Homo sapiens: one gene and its partner. The protein of the gene in region 1 purifies or fractionates together with the protein of each later gene. This does not show direct contact. Each region holds a gene or a part of one and is shown on either strand. Other genes may lie near its edges.

Evidence for each region. The genes of interacting proteins can lie anywhere in the genome.
Region 2: the proteins of FBXW11 (region 1) and TFAP4 purify together in Homo sapiens (affinity purification with mass spectrometry; 8 studies listed by BioGRID and IntAct, with this or other methods). This does not show direct contact.

Annotation. Positions count from the first base shown.
Region 1 is NC_000005.10:171,873,979-171,877,725, forward strand, and holds part of FBXW11 (F-box/WD repeat-containing protein 11), read right to left. Parts: intron 2,557-3,747; coding exon 2,307-2,556; intron 1-2,306.
Region 2 is NC_000016.10:4,271,303-4,275,049, reverse strand, and holds the start of TFAP4 (transcription factor AP-4), read left to right. Parts: upstream 1-2,026; 5' UTR 2,027-2,303; coding exon 2,304-2,392; intron 2,393-3,747.

The DNA.
Region 1 (3,747 bases):
ACACATAAGCACTGAAACTATACAAGTCTTGATAAATTGAACATCATCAAAATTAAAATCATTTGTGCATCAAAGGACACCATCAAAAAAGTGAAAAGACAACTCACAGAAAGGGAGAAAATATTTGCAAATCATGTATCTGATAAGGGACTTGTGCCCAGAATATATAAAGAACTTATAACTCAATAATAAAAAGGCAAATTACCAATTTTTAAAGTGGGCAAAAGATTTAAATAGACATTTCTCCAGAGAAGGTACACAAATGGCCAATAAGCATACAACAAGTTGTTTAGCATCATCAGTAACAAGGGAATGCAAAGCAAAACCACAGAGTACCACTGCACAATCACTAGGGCAGATATAATAAAAGAGACAAATAATAGGAAGTGTTGGCAAGGATATGGAGAAATCCTCCATGCTGATATTATGAAACAGCTATTTTGTAATAAAGCTCAAACCCTCTCAACTTCCAGGCACTGGTCTCATACCAATTGGTGTGACTGTGGGAGTAAGTTGCCGCATATAAATCCTAGTTGTTTAGCTTCCCAGCTATCCAATGCAAAGCCTGATGCTACACACTTCGTGATTTGTGGGGCTAGGTATAAGAGTGCTATCCAGTGCTGGTTATGAAAAGGAGGTTCTTCTGAGCAAGCTGAAACCCTCATATACCACTGGCAGGATTGTAAAATGGTACAGCGCCTTTGGAAAACAGTTTGGCAGTTCCTCAAAATGCTAAACACAAGCCTGGGTGACAAAGTGAGACCTGGTCTCTACAAAAAAAAAAAAAAAAAAAAAAAAAGGGCCGGGCCTGGTAGTGCCTGTACTCCCAGCTACTCCGGGAGGCTTAGGTGGGAGCCTCAGGAGTCCCTGAGCTGGGGGACTGCTTGAGCCCAGGAGGTCAAGGCTGAAGCGAACCATGACTGTGTTACTGCACTCCAGCCTGGGTGACAGAGTGAGACCCTGTCTTCAAAAGGAAAAAAAAGCTAAACACAGAGTTACCATCCTAAGAAAATTAAAAACATGAAAACTTCTACACTAATATTTATAACAGCATCATTTGTAATAGTCAAAAAAATAGAAACAACTAAAATGTCCATCAACTAATAAACAGATGAACAATGAAATTTTATTCAGCCACTGGAAGCAACAAAGTACTGGCTGGGTGTGGTGGCTCATGCCTGTAATCCCAACACTTTGGGAGGCCAAGGACTGCTTGAGCACAGGAGTCCAAGACTAGTCTGGGCAATAAAGCAAGACCCCATCTGTACTTTTAAAAAAAAAAAAAAAAAAAAGAAGGGACAAAGCTGATGATACATGCTACAAAGCACATGGATGAACCTTGAAAACATTATGCTAAGTGAAAGCAGCGAGAAATAAAAGGCCACATAAGGTATTCTTCCAATTATATGAAGTGTTTAGAATAGTCCAATCCCAAGACAGAAGGTAGATGAGTGATCACCAGGGACTGGGAAGAAACACAGGCTGACTGCTAATGAGTGTGAGGGTTTTAGAGCGCGATGAAAATGTTCTGGAACTAGACAATGGTAATGTTATAGAATGCTGCAAATGTACTAAAGGCCACGGAATTACACCCTTTAAAATGTTCAATCTTATGGCATGGAAACTATATCTCGGTAAAGATGTTATAAAAGCATAGGAAAGCTAAAATTCAAAAAAGTTAGCTGAGATATTGGAATCAGGACTGCATTTACCATATCCTAGGGAATCACCCTAGACTTCAACTCCTTGTTACAAGTCTGCCTCCCCCTTCACCGCATGCTAAGCTTCTTGAAGGCAAGGACATGTCTTCTTCATCATCATATCCCTAGCATCCGGCCCAGAGTCCACCGCACTGCGAGTCCTCAAAATTAGGTGAATAAATAAAACATCTAAGCTCTGCCACTAACTAGCTGTGATGATCACCAACACAATCCTTTACTCTCTGAGCCAGATGTGTAAAATGGGGCCACACCTACCTTAAAAGTGCTGAGTGTTAACTGAGACCATAATGTAAAGCTCCCAACACACAATACATGATCAACACGTTAGCACTCTTCCCCTTAAAAAGGTGATCAAGAATTTCATGTCATGAAACAGAAGACTGTTCTCTCTTCTGGACCGATGGCTTTTCCTCCTACCTTGCCTACAACTCTACAGATATACAGAGTGGGATGGCCTCAAGGGTTCATAAGCACAGAGGAGAATAAAGATCTTGCCAGGTACCAGGTTGGTATAAGCCACCTCTGCTTTGTCTCTGTTCTAAAAGGGACAGGAACAGGTAGGGTTATGACTGCAGACATACTTACTTTGATGGTCCTGTCACCAGAGGCAGACACGATGTACTTGTCGTCAAAGTCTACTACATTGACGGCAGCCCGGTGGCCAACCAGGACACGGCGTAAAGTGATGTCGGTCGCAGAAGCCATGTCCCACACAGCAATGGAGCGGTCCTTGGAACAGGTCACCATCAGTCCATTGCTGAAGCGTAAGTGCAATACAGCCTCATTGTGGTGGATCAATGTGTTAAGAACTTCACCCGTGTTCACATCCCACACTCTAGGAGAGAAGAGAAAAGCATGATGCTTAATTATGGAGACAGCCAGGAAATGATTCTGGTATCTGAGCTCTGTCTGGGTCTGCAATGGTTTGGATATAGTTTGTCTGACTCTACCAAATCTCATGTTGAAATTGATCCTCAATGTTGGAGGTGGGGCCTGGCAGGAGATGTTTTGGGTCATGGTGGTGTATCACTCATGAATGGCTTGGTGCCATTCTCATAGGAGGGAGTTCACTCTTAGTTCCTGAGAGAACAGGTTGTTGAAAAGAGCCTCCTAGCACCTCCTCCCTCTCTCTTGCTTCTCTCTCACATGTGATCTGCACATGCTGGCTCCCCTTTGCCTTCTGCCATGAGTAGAAGTAGCTCGAAGCCCTCATCAGAAGTAGATGCTGGTGCCATGCTTCTTGCAGAGCCTGCAGAACCATGAGTCAAATACACCCCTTTTCTTTATAAATTACCCAGCCTCGGGTATTCCTTTATAGCAATACAAATGGAGTAAGACAGGGTCTATTCTTAATGAACCTAAGGACATGATTAAAAGGGGCCCCTAAAAGCAATTTCTTTATTTGCTGAGAAGTGCTGAGATGGTTTCAGAAAAGGTGGCTAATTCTGGCTCTGCCTGAGTTTAGGTATATTTAGCAGTCAGGTATTTAGGGACGGTGTTTGCAGGCTCGTGCTGATGGCAAAAGATGATTCCTCTAGATAGTAGATTTTGTATTGAGTCTGAGATGACAGGAAGAAGGAGGCTTGTTGGCTGAAGAACTGAGAATGGTTCCAAGCTTAGTTCTTGTTGACCTCTGACAGGCCTCTGAGTCTATCAGTTATCCACTGCAAACTGGGTAAGTCATGATGCCTCATCAATCACCGCATCCACTTCTTTACCCAGCTGCTTTATGGACAAAGCCAGGGTCTCCCAACTGCTTTGTAGATCCAGGGATCTGGAAGCAGCATTTCCACATCACGGCTTTTCTGTAACCCTCATCTCCTAAGAGGACAAGTTCACATAGGGCAGAGGGGGAAAGACTCAGGCCTCTGAGGCTGAGACATGATCTCTGGCAGAAGCAGGGGTACGGAAGCACTGAGTCCAGGAGAGGATACTAAGCATGCTTCAAGCAGGGGTGGCGATGCTTCCAGCAGGGGTGGCGAAAGAGTCCAGGAGTGACTCCTGGAAGTGAGTGTCTCCTCTCTGC
Region 2 (3,747 bases), on another chromosome or scaffold:
CTGAGGCAGAAGAATCACTTGAACCCAGGAGGCGGAGGTTGCAGTGAGCCGAGATCGTGCCACTGCACTCTAGCCTGGGTGACAAAGCAAGACTCCGTCTTAAAAAACAAAACAAAACAAAACAAAAAAAAGAATAGCTTGCTCACTAAGGGCAGTTAAAAATAGGCTTCCCACCAGGGCCATCCATGGCTCATGCTTGTAATCCCAGCAATTTGGGAGGTAGAGGTAGGATTCCTTGAGTCCCAGGAGTTCAAGACCAGGCTGGGCAACACAGTGAGACTCCTATCTCTATTTGTTGAAAAACAGTAAAAAGGTTTTTTTTTTTTTTTTTTTTTGAGACGGAGTTTCACTCTTGTTGCCCAGGCTGGAGTGCAATGACATGATCTTGGCTCACTGCAACCTCCACCTCCCGGGTTCAAGCGATTCTCCTGCTTCAGCCTCCCGAGTAGCTGAGATTACAGGCATGTGCCACCAGGCCCCCGGCTAATTTTGCATTTTTAGTAGAGACGGGGTTTCTCCATGTTGGTCAGGCTGGTCTCGAACTCCCGACCTCAGGTGATCCACCCGCCTCAGCCTCCCAAAGTGCTGAGATTACAGGCGTGAGCCAACGCGCCCAGCCGAAAGTTTTTTTTTTTTTTTTTTTTTTTTAAGTAGAAACATAGTAAGCCTTCCAGAGACTTTTTTTTGGTCAAGTGGTCTGGGATCTCTCCTTAGAGAAACTGCCTAACAGGTTGCTTCAAGGATTGGAGAGCGTGTAAGCAAAACTGCTCGGCATCCACCGGGTGCTGGCAACATCTAATAACAATATTTCCCAATAATAACAGTAACTATTGTTACTAGTAGGAATAAGTCAAATTAGGAGGCGCGATTTAGGCGGAACCTGGAAGGCGGTGGGCAGGATCCAGGACATTCCAAGGCAGGCGTGGGCTTCCTGAGCCAGGAGCCAACCCTCCAGGAGCCAGGGGAGGGCCTGGGGCCGGAAGGTGCGGCGTGCGAGCGGAGGACGGAAGCTCGCCGCCAGGGTCCCCGTCCCTGCCCCAAGTCGTCACCCCCTCTTGGGGAGCGCATCCTGGCGGAGGGGCAAGTCCCACACGGGCTTTGTTATGAATGGGAAGCTGCAGCCTTCAGCCCGCGGAGGGAACAGTGCGGGTCTGGGGGAATAGCAGGGGACCCGGCAGCAACCAGCAGACCTCCCCGCAGCGCTGGCAGCCTGCGCCCGGGGGCCGCTGCCGTTCAGGCCCGCCTCCACCCTCCCCTCCCTGCCGGGGCCCCCGGCTTCCTAGGGCGGCCCCAGCATCCGAGGCGCCCTTTGCCGTCCCGTCGCCGGGTCCAAGATTCCCAGGATCCGGAGTCCCGGCCGTGCGGCCAGCTAAGCAAGGCGGGAGGGAGGAAGCTGGCCGGCCTCCGAAGTCAGCCCCGAGTTACATGTGGGAAGCGGTGGCTGTGACGCAAGTTTCCAGGGGGCCCTGGGCTCGGCTCGAAGGGAGCACACCGGAGAGGCTCCGCTCCGTGCAGCTGCAATGGTGAAAAAGCAGAAGCCCCAAGCGCGAACCCCAGGCCGCCTTCCTTGCTGCCGCTGCACGCCCGACCCAGCCGCGCCCCCTCCTCCCTGCGGGCCGGCCGAGCGCGCGGACCCTGCTCTGGGCCAGTCGCTGCTGGACTCCGGGCTGCACGGGCTGGGCTCCCTGCGCGGTGGCTGGCCTTTTTTTTTTTTTTTTTGCAACGCTTGCCAACCTGTCAGCTGATGGACCTCATCACCCATAGTGGCGCATGTAGCTCGGCCGCAGCTCGCTCCATTCACGCCGCGCCCCGCAAGCCCGCCCGCGGCCCCCGGCCCCCTGCGCCCCGCGAGAGGCCTGCAGACCCCGGTTGCAGCCGGTCCCCGGGGGCCCGCGCCCCTCTCGCCCCGGCCTCGCGCCGCCCGGGGGGCGCTGCAAATAGTCCTTTGTTTACATGCAATTCCTTACTCCGCGGAAGGAGGCCGGGGGAGTGCTGAGTTTTCACCAGCTGTTTCCCGCCTTGAAACAGACATCTGATCAGCTGCAAACACACACACACACACACACACACACACACACACACACACACACACACATACACACGCCCGGGGAGGCAGGCCGGAGAGACCTCCCTCCCGCCCCTCCCGCCCGCCTCCCTCCCCTCGCCGCCGCCGCCGCCGCCAGCATCTGGGACCGGCCGATTCTGCACCTCCGTCCGGCGCTGCCCTTTGATTCGGATTTCCATCTTGCATTCTCCGGCTGATCGCGGGACCTGGCTCGTGCAGAGGAGGGGGGCCGATCGCTATGGAGTATTTCATGGTGCCCACTCAGAAGGTGCCCTCTTTGCAACATTTCAGGAAAACAGAGAAAGAAGTGATAGGAGGGCTCTGTAGGTGTGTACTCCTCCTCCCCCCACCCCCTTCCTACCACTGCAGCCCCCGGCCAGCCCGCCCGGGCGGGCGCGCGTGTGCGCACGCATGGCCCGCGCCGCCGACCCCGCTAGCCTTTCTTAGCTGCCGGGACGGCTGCAGCCCCACACGCCGGGTCCGCGCCGCCCCGGGACCCTCCTTCCTTGGAGCATGGGGGCCCCAAGCGGCCCCGGCCACTTTTGTCCGCTGCAGGCGGGCGAGTCGCGACGTTTGTAAATTGCAAACAGACCCACGTGGTTCTGCAGCAGTCCCGGCCATGCTTGGTGCTGGTGGCCTTCCCCCCCGCGCTTCCTCTTTCCCCCTCCTGCGGCGGCTTCCTTCCTCTCCTTCCTTCCTCGGGATCTGAGGTCGTCCCCATCCAAGGGGGTCTGGGGGCCCGGGGCGCGCGTGGGGGTGTAGCTAGGGCGGCTACAATGCAGCCATGCCGCGGCTCCCGGCGCGGGGTGGGGGCGGGGAGCCGGGCACTGTGCGTGTTTGCAGAGCGGGGCTGCAGCGGGGTCGGGGGCGTGCTCGCGTGTGGGTGTTGGGGGTGGGCGGACCCCGAGGGGCCCGCGCGGCCGGTAGGGGCGCCGCGGCCCGGGGCACGTTGGCTGCCGCTCGCTCGCCCGCCCGCGCCCGGGCGCTGTTTACTAGCGAGGCCTGGACGTGACTCTGCAGCCCTCTTGGAGTAGGCGGACCTCTGCGCGCGGCCTCGCGGGAGCTGTAGTTCTCCGTGTCCTGCTGGTGCAGCATTGTGGGATTTGTAGGCGCTCCTGGGCCACGCTTTCCCTGCACAAAGCTCGGCCCCCGCGGGCACGATGGGCAAGGCAGGCCAGGTGGGCAGGCCATTTGGGGAAGGGACACCTGAGGCCGCCCCTAGCCTCGCAGGGCAGCTTCCCGCCGCACGTGGGTTTCCTCTGCAAACTTTCCCATCCAACGCCCCTCCCCCCTGCCGTAAACCGAAAGCGTCGGGTCCCCCAGCCGGGTGGGTGGCCCGAGGTCCGCAGGCCTCCCCAGAAGCCACTTTGCAAGCTTTGGTCCTAGGTTGCTCTAAACCCAAAGGGTGATGGACTCAAGGACCACACACAGCCAAACCACCCCGCACACTTCTTAAAATGCACATGCCTGGAACTCTGATCGCTGGGGCCCGGACATCTGCATTTTGAACGACCCCCTGGGCGTGGTGTGGGGGAGGTGGGCGTTCTACGGCGTGCGCAAGTTTGGGACCTGTGGCCCCTTTCCTGCCGCGCTGCTCCAGGAGCGAAATGGCTCCCCAGGGCTGGAGCCACGTGCTCTGCCGCCCGAGGCAGTCTGGGCGGGGATTGAGGGAGGAGGAGCCC